2 separate regions of the Homo sapiens genome follow, and region 2 is linked to region 1. Evidence: fine-mapped expression QTL. Tissue or cell type: esophagus mucosa. Region 1 holds a variant in brackets; the other region holds the start of a gene. All regions are shown on one strand. Distances are between the middles of the regions.

Region 1 (8,103 bases):
GAGAGACAATCGTTAATCGGCTAAATTTCTGCCTTCTGAGAGCTCAGAATCAAGAAATAAATAATAGGGCAGTAAAAGGGGCTGGGATTACATACAAAAAGAAAATTAATGCCTGAACTTTTTACAATCTGCTCGATAAGCTTTAATTCTATTAACCTATTTGAGCTTCCCAACAACAGGCAAGCTCCCACAGCAGCTAGGAGGATCACTTTGTCGTCATACAAATAGAAACAGGCTCAGAGAGGAAGTCATTTGTTCTAGTTCTCACTAGGACAAATCTACTGGCTACTAAAAAAGTGTGAAGGCTGGGGACAGTTTGAGTCGTCCTGCTTGCACCTTAAGCGCCTACAAGAGTGCCCGGCTATAACAACCACAATACCAATAATAAAATTTAAAAACAGATGTTCAGTAAGGACTTGCGGCATTAGGACCCCAGGAGGGAAGTGACGTTCGAGGAGGCGGAGAAAGCCGCGAAGACGGCCTTCCCCACATCTTCCAGCACCTGCGCGCCTGAATCCGTCCCACCCAGGCCCAGACGCAGGCTTCTTCTCGGGTCTTGGTCCTGCATCCTCTCTCTCCCAGAGCCTCCGTTAGGGGGTGGGAAAGGACTTTGCCATAGGTCGCTGAGGCCACCATCTGCTCTCTTACTGGCCAAGGGCGTAAAAAGATAGTCTTCCCATTAGCTAGAGAGCAAACCCCAGAAAGCCTATTGGCTGCGCCGTCCGCGGGCCTTGGTCCGCTTTGAAGGCGGGCTGCGGCTGCGAGAGGAGGGCGGGCGGGAGGCTAGCTGTTGTCGTGGTTGCTCGGAGGCACGTGTGCAGTCCCGGAAGCGGCGAGGGGAAACTGCTCCGCGCGCGCCGCGGGAGGAGGAACCGCCCGGTCCTTTAGGGTCCGGGCCCGGCCGGGCCATGGATTCAATGCCTGAGCCCGCGTCCCGCTGTCTTCTGCTTCTTCCCTTGCTGCTGCTGCTGCTGCTGCTGCTGCCGGCCCCGGAGCTGGGCCCGAGCCAGGCCGGAGCTGAGGAGAACGACTGGGTTCGCCTGCCCAGCAAATGCGAAGGTGAGGAGGCGGGGCCCGTGGGGCGTATCCTGCCGGAGGGGCTGGCTCCAGCGGTGGTGCTTGCGGAGCAGCGTCGGGGGTTGCAAGGTTCCGAGCTCTGCAGGGTGTCTTCCTTCCTTGAACAGGCTTGCGCCGGGACGCTGCGGCGGACGAGAGATCTGGTCCCGGTACCCCTGGAGTTCACACATTGGTAGAAACAAGCAATGATAATTCAGAGTAGTAGATGCCATGATAGGGGAGGTACAGAGCTTCCTTTTGGGGGCCGGACGAGGAGCATCTGGTCTAGCCTGGAGTGGGGGAGGGGGTGGGCGAAGGCTGTGTGCAGAGGGGAGTCAAAGAGGGCTTCATACAGGAAGCACGAAGAGGCATTAGGAGTTAGCCGGATGAAGAGAAGTGGAAAGAGAGGGGCCCACTCAGGAAACTACAGAGGCAGAGGCCTGCCGGCTGAGAAGCTAAGAACGAGTTTGAGGAACTGAAAAGCTCCAGATGACTCATCTTGGGGGAAAAAAACCTAAGACTTTCCCCTTTTGCCCTCACTGCAACCCAATCTGTGTAGTTGTCTGTTGCACCCACTAACAACTCCTCGAAGGCAGGAATTTTTGTCTTAGATACGTATTCACACAGTGTCTGGTAGGCACTCAATAAATGTTTTGAGAATACAGATGATTAAATGGGAGACTGTGGGTGTGTGTGAGGAGGAGGATCTGGATCTGAGGAGCCCTTTGGGGGAACAATAGAGCCTATGGGGAACTTGAAAGAAGATTTTAGGACTTTGGAGAAAAGGTGAGTCCCAAAGACATAGGCGTTGAGGAACTACAGAGAGAGAGAGAGAGGGAGCTACCAGCGAGCCAGGACTATAAAGGACCTATTTCTTTTTCCTCAACTCCGTCCCTTAGTTTTCTCCTCAGACCTTACAGTCATGCCTGCCTTCCTAGCCCCGTAACCCCAGGGCCCCCAGAAAGTTGGCTGTGAATCTCTCATCTGAATTGAAAGCCTACATCAGGCCAGATGTTCCCTAAACACTGGAAAGTGGGTTTGGGGTAAGTTTCGGACACATAATCCTTCCATTAGAGAGATTAAAAGGATGCTTTAGAGATAAGCCGACTTCACTGGTAGGGCACCCAGTATGAGTTCAAGCCTGTGCCTTCCCCCGTACATTCTTTTCTTTTTTTCCTTTTTTTTTTTTATGAGACTGTCTGGCTCTGTTGCCCAGGCTGGAGTGCAGTGGCGAGATCTCGGCTTATTGCAACCTCTGCCTCCTAGGTTCAAACGATTTTCCTGTCTCAGCCTCCTGAGTAGCTGGGATTACAGGCGCATGCCACCATGCCCAGCTAATTTTTGTGTTTTTAGTAGAGATGGGATTTCATCATATTGGTCAGGCTGGTCTTGAACTCCTGACCTCAAGTGATCCACCTGCCTTGGGCTCCCACAGTGCTGGGCTTATAGGCGTGAGCCTCTGCTCCTGGCCGCCCTTTCACTTTTCGCTCTTCCTCTAGTCCTGATAGCTTTTTTTTTTTTTTTTGAGATGGAGTTTCGCTCTTATTGCCCAGGCTGGAATGCAGTGGCGCGATCTTGGCTCACCGCAACCTCCAGTGACCCACCCTCCTCGGCCTTACAAAGTATTGGGATTACAGGCATGAGCCACCGTGCCTGGCCTTTTTTTTTTTTTTGAGACGGAGTCTTGCTCTGCCCAGTCTGGAGTGCAGTGGTGCGACCTTGACTCGCTGCAACCTCCGTCCCCCAGGTTCAAGGATTCTTCTACCTCAGCCTCCCGAGTAGGTGGGACTACAGGTGTGTGCCACCACTCCCGGCTATTTTTAGTAGAGACGGGTTTTCACCATGTTGGCCAGGCTGGTCTTGAACTCCTGAACTCGGGTGATCCACCCACCTTAGCCTCCCAAAGTGCTGGGATTACAGGCGTGAGCCACTGCACCCAGCCCAGCTAACTGATAGCCTTTCAGCGTTTCGCTTCCTCTTCTCTTTCTTTTCTGTCTTATTATTATTATTATTATTTTTTTTTGAGACGGAGTCTTGCTCTGTTGCCCAGGCTGGAGTGCAATGGCACAACCTCGGCTCACTGCAACCTCTGCCTCCAGGGTTCAAGTGATTCTCCTGC[C/T]TCAACCTCCTGAATAGCTGGGATTACAGGCACCTGCCATCATGCCCGGGTAATTTTTGTATTTTTGTAGAGACTGGGTTTCACCATGTTGGCCAGGTTGGTCTTGAACTCCTGACCTCAGGTGATCCTCCCACCTCAGCCTTCCAAATTGCTGGGATTACAGGCATGAGCCTCCGTGCCCAGCCTGTATTCTGTCTTATTCTGATATCAAAGAGCCCATACTCTCCCTCTTATTATTCTCATAGCCTAAGGAGCTCACATTTATTCTCCTTAGGCAACATTCACAGACTCACGGAAGCATAGAGATGCCCAGGATCTCTATATCTCTATATCTAGAGATCATTCTAGTCTACCCTCATTTGGTAACTGATGAAGATTAATTGAAAAGGGATTTGCAGTCACAGGATGGCTTGGCAAACTCCAACCGTTAGGTTCATCTTAATAGTATATTTGTTTGTATTATTATTACACCTTTGTTATTAAATGCTGACTGTGTCTAGCCCACCAAGCCTGCCTCCTGGCTCAGTAGCCTGAGTGGAACAGGCCTCGGCACAGAGGAAGGAGAACCTGCCCGGAAAAAAAGAGTGGGTGGATGTCAGTGAGGGTCTGGTGTCTGTGCCGTGAATCTCCTGTGAGTCTGGTTCTGGGTGGGATCCGCAGAGGAGGTCTTGAAGAGGTAATGTTTGGAAGAGCTGGAAAGCAAGGCTGTGGTTGATGGGTATGAGAGAGAAAGGATGTTCCAAACCTCCCCTTTCCCCACTCCTGGGGAGGGCGTGGGAGGAGGGGCAAGTGGTGCTAGAAAAATGATGTGCCTGCACAGAGTACAGGACAGAAGAGGGGAGGGAGCCCAGATGGTCCTGGATGGAGAGCTGGGGAGGTGAGACATCCCCAGTTCATTGCAGACTTGAAGATCACCAGCTTATTACTTGGAATTTGTATGTGTTTCAAATTCTCCAAGCCATTGATTAATTTCACCAAGCAGGCCTCCAGGGGATGTATTTATTTTTGTGGTAAATTGGTATTCTAGCAGACTGTGCTGTCAGTGTTAAAACTGCTGATGGCATTTAGCCTTCAGACTGGTATTCCATTCAGAGGCATCAGAAGACGGTCTCTATCAACAAGATTTATCGAGCGTCCAGCATATATCAAGTCCCAGGCTAAGGAAATACGAAAAAATCTAATACATAATGCACATTTTGGGGACCCTTGTGGTCTATGTGGAGAGACACATCAAATGACTGAGGGTCCTTAGGGAGAGCATGGATCCTGCAGAGGCCCAGAGTGAAATCTAGAGCAATTGGCATTAGTGCAGAATGGCTTCCTGGGGGAGAGGCTTATAATGCGAGGTGGGCAGGATGGGCAGAGAAGCCCTTAGAAGGCATTAAGTATTTTCCTAGGGCCTCAGGCACTTCACACCCTCGGTGGTAGCACTGTAGCACTCTATACAGTGGTAGTTATTTGTCTACACCTTTATCTGCTGCATTAGACTGAGTATCTGGAAGGGAGGGGACCTTGTTTTCATCTCTGTATCCCCAGGCTGACACGTAGGAGTTGCCTAATACCTATTTGAGGAAGGGTAAGAGGAAATGAGGAAATAAATGTGCGGAGACAGTAGGAACAAGAGCTCTCTGGAGGGCATGGAGCAAATTAACTTGGTAGAAATAGAGCTGATGTTGGAACACATATGAAATCAAGTAATCTAACAACCATAAAAGATGTTTTGGGGACAATTAAGGAAATTTGAATATGGACTACTGGGTGATGTTGGAATTGTTAATTTTCCAAGTATCATAATTGTTCTATGGTTATGTAGGAGGAGGTCTTTTTTCTCAGGAGATACATGATGATATATTTATCTCAAAAGGTCATGTTTGCCACTTACTTTCAAGATGGTGTAGCAAAAGAAATGTATATATTGTTGAGATATTATAATTATATATTGAAGAGAGAATGTGGCAAACTATTAACAACTGTTGAATACAAGTGGAAGGTATTCATTGTGTTCTTTCAGCTTTTCTGTATGTATGCAATTTTAGAAAGTAAAATGATAGACCCTGGCGTGGTGGCTCACGCCTGTAATCCCAGCACTTTGTGAGGCCGAGGTGGGCGGATCGCTTGAGGTCAGGAGTTCAAGACCAGCCTACCCAACAAGATGAAACCTGTCTCTACTAAAAATACAGAATTAGCCGTGCATGGTGGTGCATGCCTGTAATCCCAGCTACTTGGGAGGCTGAGGCAGGAGAATCGCTTGAACCCAGGAGCTGAGATCTCATCATTGTACTCTAGCCTGGGCAACAAGAGCGAAACTCCATCTCAAAAAAAAAAAAGGAATACGAAGAACAATTGCTTAAGGGCAGGATTTACAGTAAGTACATGCTCTTACACAAGAAACAGTAGATAAAATAGAAATCCTAGAGGCATTCCTGAAACTGGGGTTAATCAGAAGTCAACATGGCACATTAGCATCCAAGATGGAGTTGCTTTAGCCTCCACAGGTTCTAACTCCTTCCCTGCCTTGAGTGCTGATTTTGGTCCTCCAGTCTAGGAAAGGATGCCCACCTGGATCTGTTTTGCTGGGAGCTGGCCTCCCATTAGACTCATGTGCACTCAGTGGGCTGTGCTACCTCCCTCCCCCAGTGTGTAAATATGTTGCTGTGGAGCTGAAGTCAGCCTTTGAGGAAACCGGCAAGACCAAGGAGGTGATTGGCACGGGCTATGGCATCCTGGACCAGAAGGCCTCTGGAGTCAAATACACCAAGTCGTAAGTGAATGGGGACTCACTGGCCTGGCCTGCGTTGCTGCTGGAGGCTTCAGGGGTTTGGAGTTCCCTTCTCCTAGCTAGGCAAACCCCCTACAAGGGCATCATTTGTAACCAAGACCTGAGTTTGCCCACTGATTCTGTCCCCAGCTAATTGGGTGACGTGCATAAATCTCTTAACTTCTTTATGCTTCAGCAGATTTCTCATCTCTAAAAGCAAGACTGTTGGACTATATCATTGATTCTCAGACGCTTGGATTTCACAGAGCAATGCAAGTTTTTTTTTGCGACGGAGTTTCACTCTTGTTGCCCAGGCTGGAGTGCAATGGCATGATCTTTGCTCACTGCAACCTCTGCCTCCCGGGTTCAAGAGATTTTCCTGCCTCAGCCTCCCAAGTAGCTGGGATTACAGGCATGTGCCATCACGCCCAGCTAATTTTCTGTATTTTTTTAGTAGAGATGGAGTTTCACCATGTTGGTTAGGCTGGTCTCGAACTCCTGACCTGAGATGATCCGCCTGCCTCGGCCTCCCAAAGTGCTGGGATTACAGGTGTGAGCCACCACACCCGGCCACAGTGCAATTTTTTAAAACATTAGTAACAGGATTACCAGCTTTTTATTTTGCTAGGTACAAATATAGTTTTTAAAAACCCAATTCTGTCAGCTGTGATCATCCTTTCAAAGAGAATGATATTTTACTATCAAAATTTAATAATTTTGCTTTATCAAAAAATCTAAATACTGAATCATTTAGCTTTATAAAAAATTCCTTCCCTTAGAGCTGTTAAAATTTTGTCTCTCTGGTCTGTGTTCCAGCATTTCAGATCCCCCAGACCAGATGACCTATCTTCCTTCCAGCTCTGAGTCACTTCCCATTGGTGAGATGTGCAGGTGTTGGGGCACAGGGCTGGAGGGACAGACCACTAACCCACTGCGGCTAGGAGGGGAACTCAGTTCCTCATCCTCCTGTCTTGGCAGGGACTTGCGGTTAATCGAAGTCACTGAGACCATTTGCAAGAGGCTCCTGGATTATAGCCTGCACAAGGAGAGGACCGGCAGCAATCGATTTGCCAAGGTTGGATTCGGGATTGTCCTTCATCCGCTCTGGGGTCAGGCCTGCATGTATCTTAGTGTGTCTGCTGGTGTGAGTGTGATTTGAAGATGACCACCTGGGATCTTCCTTCATTGCCTCTTCCCATTCTTTGATTGCCGTTTGTGCTCCTCCCCTCTTGAGTGGCCTCATTTTTCAGGCACATGCATGAGGGTCTGGGCCTGTTCATGAGGGTCCTGCTTCAATCTCAGACACAGGCAGAAATGCTCCACAGTTGCTGCCCCCGTGGGAACCTAAAGACACTAGAACGGGGAGAACTCAGCAAGATCCACGATGTGCAGAAAGGTGGGGGTTTAGGCGAGGTGTCAGAGGACACCTCGGTGGGAGTGACTGCCCAGTCCCATCTCTGGGTCCACACAGCACCTCCCACAACCCCGCTGGGATGCCCTTGTGATGGCCCATGTACTCAGTATGTGTACGAGTGCTTTTCTCTCTGGAGAATGAGCTGCTTACAACAAGGCCCATAGTTCTTACTCTCTACATCTTCAGTGCCTGGCACAGGGTAAGATAGTTGCCACCCACATTTTTCTACCTAAGTTTCCTTCTAGCAAAGGATACCATTCATAAACTCCTGGGATACCTAAGGGAATAGTCTCAAGCAGCAGAAATTTGTATGAATTTTGCACTCAGTAATAAATCTGTGTTTGCTTTAATAAAAAGTGTTTAAGAATTATTTTTCATAGCAGGAAAAAAATGAGAAACAATCTAACTCTACCAATAGGGGATTAAATACGTTGATCCAGCCGTTTGGTGGACTAGTATGCGGCTGGAAACGAAGCATGGGGAGGCTCTTTAGGAACTGAATTCAATTGATTTTCAAGGTTTTTGTGTGTTTGTTTGTTTTGGAGACAGAGTCTCACACTCTGTTGCCCAAGCTGGAGCGCAGTGGTGCGATCTCAGTTCATTGCAACCTCCACCTTCCAGATTGAAGCTATTCTCCCACCTCAGCCTCCTGAGTAGCTGGGATTACAGGCACCGACCACCACGCCCGACTAATTTTTGTGTTTTTTAGTAGAAACGGGGTTTCACCATGCTGGCCAGGGGGTCTCGAACTCCTGA
Region 2 (8,103 bases), 46 kb after region 1:
TTTTTTTTTTTTTTTTTTTTTTTTGAGACGGAGTCTCGCTCTGTCGCCCAGGCTAGAGTGCAGTGGTGCGATCTCGGCTCACTGCAAGCTCCACCTCCCGGGTTCACGCCATTCTCCTGCCTCAGCCTCCCAAGTAGCTGGGACTACAGGCGCCCACCACCACACTCGGCTAATTTTTTTTTTGTATTTTTAGTAGAGACGGGGTTTCACCATGTTAGCCAGGATGCTCTCAATCTCCTGACCTCATGATCCGCCCACCTCGGCCTCCCAAAGTGCTGGGATTACAGACGTGAGCCACAGCACCTAGCCGCAAATGTGGCTTCTTTTAACCAGGGCCTCTGGGGTACTTGGTTCTAAGGCATGGGATAGGAGGAATGTAATGAGGGTGAGAAGCTATCCTCCTTAAAAGGTTAGGTAGCTAACCTGGGTATCTGAAAGTGCCGGTAAAGAACACCGTCATAATTTCCATTAGTGCTGTAGTGGGGAGAAGACACAATTTCGATGTGTAACTCTCTGGCAAATGGAGGCCCAGGCAGCAATGAGCAGCTTCCTTTGTCTTCAGGGGCGATGGAGCCTTCCAAGTACCTCTATTAGAGAAATAACCACCACGTTATAACCTTCTCCTAAGGGGGCAGGCTCTAACCTGTCTCTCAGCAGCCAACATGTCTATTTCCATCCTGTCTTTCCCATAACCACAAGGCTTGTGGAAGGTGGGGCCTGAGGTAGCAGACCTGAAAACCTCTCCCTCTAATGGGTACCAGGAAGAGAATATCACCTCCTATCCCGACTCTGGCTCCAAAAAATTTTCTCAGTAAAGATAACCTTTCTGTGACACTTTCAACTTGGCCCAGAGCCAGTGAAATGGTAAAGACATTTATTCCCACAAGACCTATTAGTGACACCAGGCATCCACAGGGATTAACATTAAGTGGTCATTAGTGGGGAAACTGAATTCAGGCTGTGGGAAAAGCTGAACGGGTTGGTTCAGTCATTGGTTGGTTCAATGAGCTCTACTCTTGAGTACCCCAGTAGTTTTTCCTCCATTCAGGAGGAAACCTACATCCACTCCCTTTCACATGTATTTCACATGTATCTCTACCTGACATCCCAAAGTATTAACTGGTTACTCTAGTACTGCCCAGTAGAACTCTCTACAATGGAATAGTCTATATCTGCATGTGCTATTGAGCACTTGAAATGTGGCTAAAAACAAAACAAAAACAAAGAAATGTAGCTAAAGCAACTAAAAAACATGATTTAGTTTTTTTTTTTTTTTTGAGACTTAGTCTCACTTTGTCGCCCATGATGAAGTGCAGTGGCACAGTCTCGGCTCATTGCAACCTCTTCCTCCTGGGTTCAAATGATTCTCTTTGTGCCTCAGCCTCCTGAGTAGCTGGGACTATAGGCATGTGCACCACCATGCCTGGCTAATTTTTGTGGGTTTTATTTTTTTCTTGAGATGGAGTCTCGCTTGTCACCCAGGCTGGAGTGCAGTGGCACCATCTCGGCTCACTGCAAGCTCCGCCTCCTGGGTTCAAGGGATTCTCCTGCCTCAGCCTCCAGAGTAGCTGGGACGACAGGCATGTGCCACCACACCTAATTTTTTTTTTTTTTGTATTTTTAGTAGAGACGGGGTTTCACCGTGTTAGCCAGGATGGTCTCAATCTCCTGACCTTGTGATCTGCCTGCCTTGGCCTCCCAAAGTGCTGGGATTTAATTTTTGTATTTTTTAAAATAGAGATGGGGTTTCGCCATGTTAGCCAGGCTTACTTTATTTAGTTTTAACTAAATTTAAAAATTTAAAAAGCCACAAAGTGGCTGGTGGCTTCCATATTGGACAGCACCATCTAAACCATATATCTAGGTCCTTAATTAAACACTATACTGTATTTGTCCCCCTAAACACAACTTTCATTTTTTTCTTTTTTTGAGACAGAATCTTGCTCTGTCACCCAGGTTGGAGTGCAGTGGTGTGATCTGGGTTCACTGCAACTGCCACCTCCCAGGTTCAAGCGATTCTCCTGCTTCAGCCTCCCCAGTTGTTGGGTTTACTGGTGTGCACCACCATACTGGGCTGATTTTTGTATTTTTAGTAGAGATGAGGTTTCACCATGTAGGCCAGGCTGGTCTCGAACTCCTGACCTCAAGTGATCTGCCTGGCTCAGCCTCCCAAAGTGCTGGGATTACAGGCATGAGCCACTGCGCCTGGCCTTTTTTTTTTTTACACAATGAAGGTTTATTTTTTTGTCACTCTTATGTCTGTTATGGCGAACTGGTGAGTCTTTACTCAGTAACCCATGGAAATGGAACAACTATTATCTGTTCTACAACTTTCTTCTTGAAGTAAAGGCAGAAACCAAAAACTTTCCTTGGATGTATTTAATAAAATATTAAAACTAAACACCAGGCACCAAAGATAATAAAGACTCCTTTCCTTCAAGGTATTTACAATATATAATTGGGGATTAAACAGATTATGTAATCATAACAAGATAGAATAAAATAAATGCCATAAAAAAGATAGAAAATGCTATAGGAGGAAGTTCTAAATTCGTGGCTGTGAGATCATGAAAGGCTTTGTGATAAAGGTGTCATCTTTAGATGGCTCTTGAGGGAAAGGAGGGTAGGATTTTAACAGATGAGGCTAGAATAATAGGAAACAATTTGAAGTCAAGGATAAGAATGAGCAAAAGCACAGAGACATCATCCTCCATATTATAAAGCACAATACTGAATACATTGTAGCAATTCAATAAACTAATTAGATTGAGTAGATTAACATACACATCTGAAACCTCACTTTTTTTTTTTTTTTTTTTTACACAGAATTTCGCTCTGTCGTCCAGGCTGGAGTGCAGTGGTGTGATCTGGGCTCACTGCAACCTCCACCTCCCAGGTTCAAACAATTCTCCTGCCTCAGCCTCCCAAGTAGCTGGGATTACAGGCATGCACCACCACACCCAAACTTCACCTTTCACCTGAATGGATGAAAGCCTTTTGTATGCCCCACTACATTATGGAGGCTTATGATATTTTGATTACAGAATATGGATCAATAGGCCGGGTGAGGTGGCTCACGCCTGTAATCCCAACACTTTGGGTGGATCACCTGAGGTCAGGAGTTCGAGACCAGCCTGACCAATACGGTGAAACCCCGTCTCTACTAAAAATTACAAAAATTAGCCGGGCGTCGTGGCGCGAGCCAGTAGTAGGAGGCTGAGACAGGAGAATCGCTTGAACCTGGGAGGCGGAGGTTGCAGTAAGCCGAGATCGCATCACCACATTCCAGCCTGGGTGACAGAGCAAGACCCCATCTCAAAAAAAAAAAAAAAAAAAAAAAAAGGAAAGAAAGAAAAAGAAAATAGATAAATGAGGCTAAGAAACATTATGCTTTTTTTTTTTTTTTTTTGAGACAGAGTTTCACTCTTATCGCCCAGGCTGGAGTCCAATGGCGCGATCTTGGCTCACCGCAACCTCCGCCTCCCAGGTTCAAGCGATTCTCCTGCTTCAGCCTCCCAAGTAGCTGGGATTAGAGGCATGCACCACCACGCCCGGCTAATTTTACATTTTTTTAGTAGAGACGGGGTTTCTCCATGTTGGTCAGGCTGGTCTCGAACTCCCGACCCCAAGTGATCCGCTCGCCTCGGCCTCCCAAAGTGCTGGGATTACAGGCGTGAGTCACCGCGCCCGGCTAGAAACATTATGTTCAAAGTCCGGGATGATATGGGGCACGAGTCCTAAATCTTCCAATTTACCTAAGACAGAGAAGAGGGTATAAGAAAGAGGAAGCACTCCTGACCCCAGTCCTTTATCCTACCTGAATTCTGAGCTCTCCCATTTCCAGGGGGTCACAGCCAAGATTAAAAGCCAAAGTGGCAGGGACAAGCGCCAGTCCGTCAGCGAGGGGCTCTCCCAGCGGTCCAGAGCCGGGTCCCAGTCTATCAGAGAGGTCCCAGCGAGGTTCTAGGACCTGCACCCTAGCCAAGTGCGGCTGTGAAGTGTTCGATGACTCTCTGGCCTGGGCCACCCACACCCATTCGCCCTGGAAGAGGCCAAGGCCACGGAGACAGCTCCGGCTCACCCCTAGTGAATCTCCAGTCCCTCCCAGAACTCCCTGGAGTCGCCGCACTGTGCCAGAAACCGCAAAGGAGGACACCACGGGCGGGGGTGGGGGCCGACTGCTGTCCCCAGACTCTGGACACAGTCTGGCCCGCCCGCGGAGCTCAGTCACAGCCAGCCGAGTCCCTGGGCCCAGCAGCCCTTGCAACGCCGGCCGCGTCTCCAGCACCCGCGGTCCGGGCACTGGGAGGGTCTCTCCGCGCCTCACCAGCAGCGGCCCGACTCGCGGTCCGAGCCCAGGCCCCAGCGAGGTGCCAAGCAGTGCCCAACCTAGCGCCGGGGGCCGCCGCACCGCCCGCGCCCGCACCCAGGCCCCGGAGCCCAGTGCCAGGAGCCGCAGCAGCGCGCGGCTAACCAGTAGCTGCGGCGGCCCGGGACCCTGCTCTTCGGTGCCCGCGTCCGGCCCCTCCAGGGCTGCCACCAGCAGCGCCGGCCCTGCCGGGCTCTCCCCTGCAGGCCTCAGGGCCAGCACCAGGCCCAGCTCCGCCGCCGGCCACGGGCCCCCGGGTGGCAGCAGCACTGCCAACGGGGGTGTCTCGGTCGGAAAGGGCTCCAGGACCCGCAAGACAGCCAGCGCCATGGTGACAGGACACCAACGAGGAGGGTGAAGGAGCGCAGCTTCCGGAGCCAGAGAGCCAGACGACTAGTGTGCGCGAGGGCCGCTTCCGCTTCCGTCAGGGGAGGCCAGAGGAAAAGGGGAGGGGGGTCGGGTGCCGCGAACTTGCTCTGAGGGGGTTAGCTGCGCCTCGGATTGATCTGCGTCGTGCCTCGATAGGCAGTAACCTTCATCGCTGCGGTTGCGTAGCGTTTACCCATGCGCCATTTGAACTTGTGCTTAAGGGATTTATCTTTGCCTTCTACGGAAGTAATGTTCTCTTAACTATTTTTCCCCGTGGCATGAACGTAACAGTTTATTGACTGATAAATGAACAGTCAGCATGCTCGGGATGACTGGGCCCAGTACTGGGAGCTCTAGGTGAAATGTTTCGGAAGGAGTCCGCTCCTCTGCGGAGCTCCTGCAGCTTCCCCTGTGGAACTGTGAGCACTGAGGTTTGAGGGTTGCAGGAAAGGTTGCAGGAGGGAGTAGCAGGATTAGAAAACTGTCTCACACTTGCTTATAGGTATATAGTGGCTGCTGAGTGAATTACTAGATGTGATTCATACAGCCCTGGAGTGCTTGGTGCCACCACACATGTTCCAGCACATCTGGCACAAAACCCATGTTCCAGGACTTCTTGCCCTGTTCATTGTTCTGTTTGTTTTACTCCCACCAAACTTAAGTTGAAGACAAAACAGCTTTTCTTTCACCCCCCCCCCCCAAATCCTTGCAGATCGGAAACCCATTCACTTTCTATCCTAGAGCGGGGCAGGCAGCAGAGCAGGCAGAAGGAAAGGAGTTCAAGGCTTCTGTCAGCATAACACCAACAGTCGACTTCCTGCGTGTGCTGTTATTTAGATTCCATCCTTCTCTTCACCTCCACTGTTCTGTACAAGACACTCAGCTAGTGGTAGGCCACATTTCCTTTTTTATGGCAACAGGGTCCTACTCTGTCACCCAGGTTGGAGTACAGTGGCACGATCCCCATTCATTGCAGCTTCTACCGTCCCAGGCTCAAGTGATCTCCCACCTCAGCCTCCCGAGTAACTGTAGCCGGGACCACAGGCACACGCCACCATACCCAGCCAATTTTTTTTTTGAGACGGAGTTTCGGTCTTGTTGCCCAGGCCAGAGTGCAATGGCACGATCTCAGCTCACTGCAATCTCCGCTTCCCAGGTTCAAAGAATCTCCTGCCCCAGCCTCCCAAGTAGCTGAGATTACAGGTGTGTGCCACCACACCCAGCTAATGTTGTATTTTCAGTAGAGACGGGGTTTCACCCTGTTGGTCAGGCTGGTCTCGAACTCCTGGCTTCAAGTGAGCCACCTGCTTACGCCTCCCAAAGTGCTGGGATTACAGGCATGAGCCACTGCGCCTGGACTAATTTTTTATTTTTTGTAGAGACAGAGTTTCTCTGTGTTGCCTAGGCTGGTCTCAAACTCCTGGTCTGAAGAGATCCTCAGGCCTCAGCCTCCCAAAGTGCTGGGACTACAGGCATAAGCCATCATGTCCCACTGCATTTCCAATTATTAACAATTATTTTCACTTACAATAAATGAATTGGATGGTGCCAATCTCCATTTTCTAGACCTTACATTCTCTTTCAGCTACTGCTCAGCTTTCTCCATCTCTCCTTTCTTCTTGAGGCAGTCTTCTATTTTGTACATTATACATTCCTGAAAATTTGAAAGACAAATATATGAAAACTATTAGATTTGCATATTATAAGGGGCTGGGCGCAGTGGCTCATGGCTGTAATCCCAGCACTTTGGGAGGCCAAGTGGGTGGACTGCTTGAGGCCAGGAGTTTGAGACCAGCCTGGCCAACATGGTGAAACCCCGTCTCTACTAAAAATACAAAAATTAGCTGGGTATGGTGGTGTGTGCCTGTAGTCCCAGCTACTCGGGAGGCTGAGGCAGGAGAATGGCGTGAAGCCGGGAGACAGAGCTTGCAGTGAGCCGAGACTGCGCCACTGCACTCCAGCCTGGGTGACAGAGTGAGATTCCGTCTCAAAAAAATAAATAATAGAAAAAAATAAATAAAATAGCATGCAAGAATGTACTAACCAGGAACCATGGCTTGTGTCTATAATCCCAGCTATGGGGAGGCTGAGGCAGAAGGATCACTTGAACCCAGGAATTTGAGGCTATGATTGTGCCACTGCACTCCAAGTGGGTGACAGAGCAAGACCTTGTCTCTTAAAATATATAAAATTAAAAGAAAAAAAAACTAAATAAAGAATGTTCTAGGTACCTAGATTCACATGGATGAAAGTTCCCATTTGGTAGTGCTACTATATGTTTCTTGGTCCCCTATGTCCCAGAGGAACCAAGGGCTAGATAGATGGTACATGGGCCTAAAGAGGATATGCCTGCTTTCCTCAGTAGCAGGCAAGCTCTAGGCCTCAGGACTATAGTGCTCCTTGAGGCCTTGGAGATGGGTAAAAACATCAGTTATCTTGCCTGGATCAGCACTCATACAGACACAAATACCCACCCACAAATAAATGTCCTTTTCTCCCAAGCTTTTCTCCCAGCAGGTAACAGCGGGCATGTAGTCCACTTTGTGTTACCCTGAAATCGTCATTAGTCACCGAAAGCCAAATACTACTTCTGTAAGATCGCCAGGACCCTACATTTGCCATCTTCACTTCCTCACCTCTTGATGCTCACTCTTCCACTCACTAAAAACGGTCTTCCACTCTCTGAAAAAATCACCCATAATCTTCTAATTGCAGAATCAAGATGATGCTGTTCTTTCTCTGACACTACTGACCAATTGTCTTTTATTTCCTTTGCCATTATGACACCAGTTGTCCTCCTACAACTCTGATCACTTCCAGAAATCATCCTCAACTCTTCCCTTTCCGTTACCGTCCCCCCCACAATACAATGAATCACCATATCCTGTTGATTCTACACATTTTCATGCTCCATCCTCTCTTCTCCATCCCCACGGCCACTGTCTTGTAACATTGCTCTCCTGGGTACCTGGGTAAGGGACACAGGTTTTGTGTTTTTTTTTTTTTTTTTCAGATGGAGTCTTGCCCTGTCGCCCAGGCTGGAATGCAATGGTGCGATCTCGGCTCACTGCAAACTCCACCTCCCGGGTTCAATGGATTATCCTGCCTCAGCCTCCTGAGTAGCTGGGATTACAGGCACCCACCGTCATGCCTGGCTAATTTTTGTATTTTTGTAGAGACGGGGTTTTGCCATGTTGGCCAGGCTGGTCCTGAACTCCTGACCTCAGGTGATCCGCCCTCCTCAGTCTCCCAAAGTGCTGGGATTACAGGCGTGAGCCACTGCGCCTGACCTTTTTTTTTTTTAAGACTAAATATTTTATTTTATATAGAATTTTAAAAATTTATTTTTTGTACATGAATAAGTT

The links. PIP is the estimated chance that this variant, and not a neighbour inherited with it, causes the effect.
Region 2: PEX6 starts here. The variant in region 1 is fine-mapped to the expression of PEX6 in esophagus mucosa (GTEx, PIP 0.99).

What each region holds. Positions count from the first base shown.
Region 1 is chr6:42,928,663-42,936,765 of GRCh38, forward strand. CNPY3 (canopy FGF signaling regulator 3) reads left to right here and starts at 818. Exons shown (of 6, transcript NM_006586.5): 1 at 818-1,059; 2 at 5,813-5,936; 3 at 6,912-7,008. The coding sequence starts at 909. It overlaps CNPY3-GNMT (CNPY3-GNMT readthrough), which reads left to right and starts at 818. Exons shown (of 5, transcript NR_134892.2): 1 at 818-1,059. RefSeq lists enhancers at 211-712, 297-346, 357-406, 713-1,214, 857-1,116 and 1 more. The variant C/T (reference allele first, on the strand shown) is at 3,176.
Region 2 is chr6:42,974,452-42,982,554 of GRCh38, forward strand. It overlaps PEX6 (peroxisomal biogenesis factor 6), which reads right to left and starts at 4,730. Exons shown (of 17, transcript NM_000287.4): 1 at 3,818-4,730; 2 at 424-587. The coding sequence starts at 4,699. It overlaps LOC124900215 (a long non-coding RNA gene), which reads right to left. Exons shown (of 2, transcript XR_007059580.1): 2 at 6,091-6,392. RefSeq lists enhancers at 3,990-4,931, 5,092-5,141 and silencers at 4,302-4,681, 5,336-5,532, 6,771-6,989.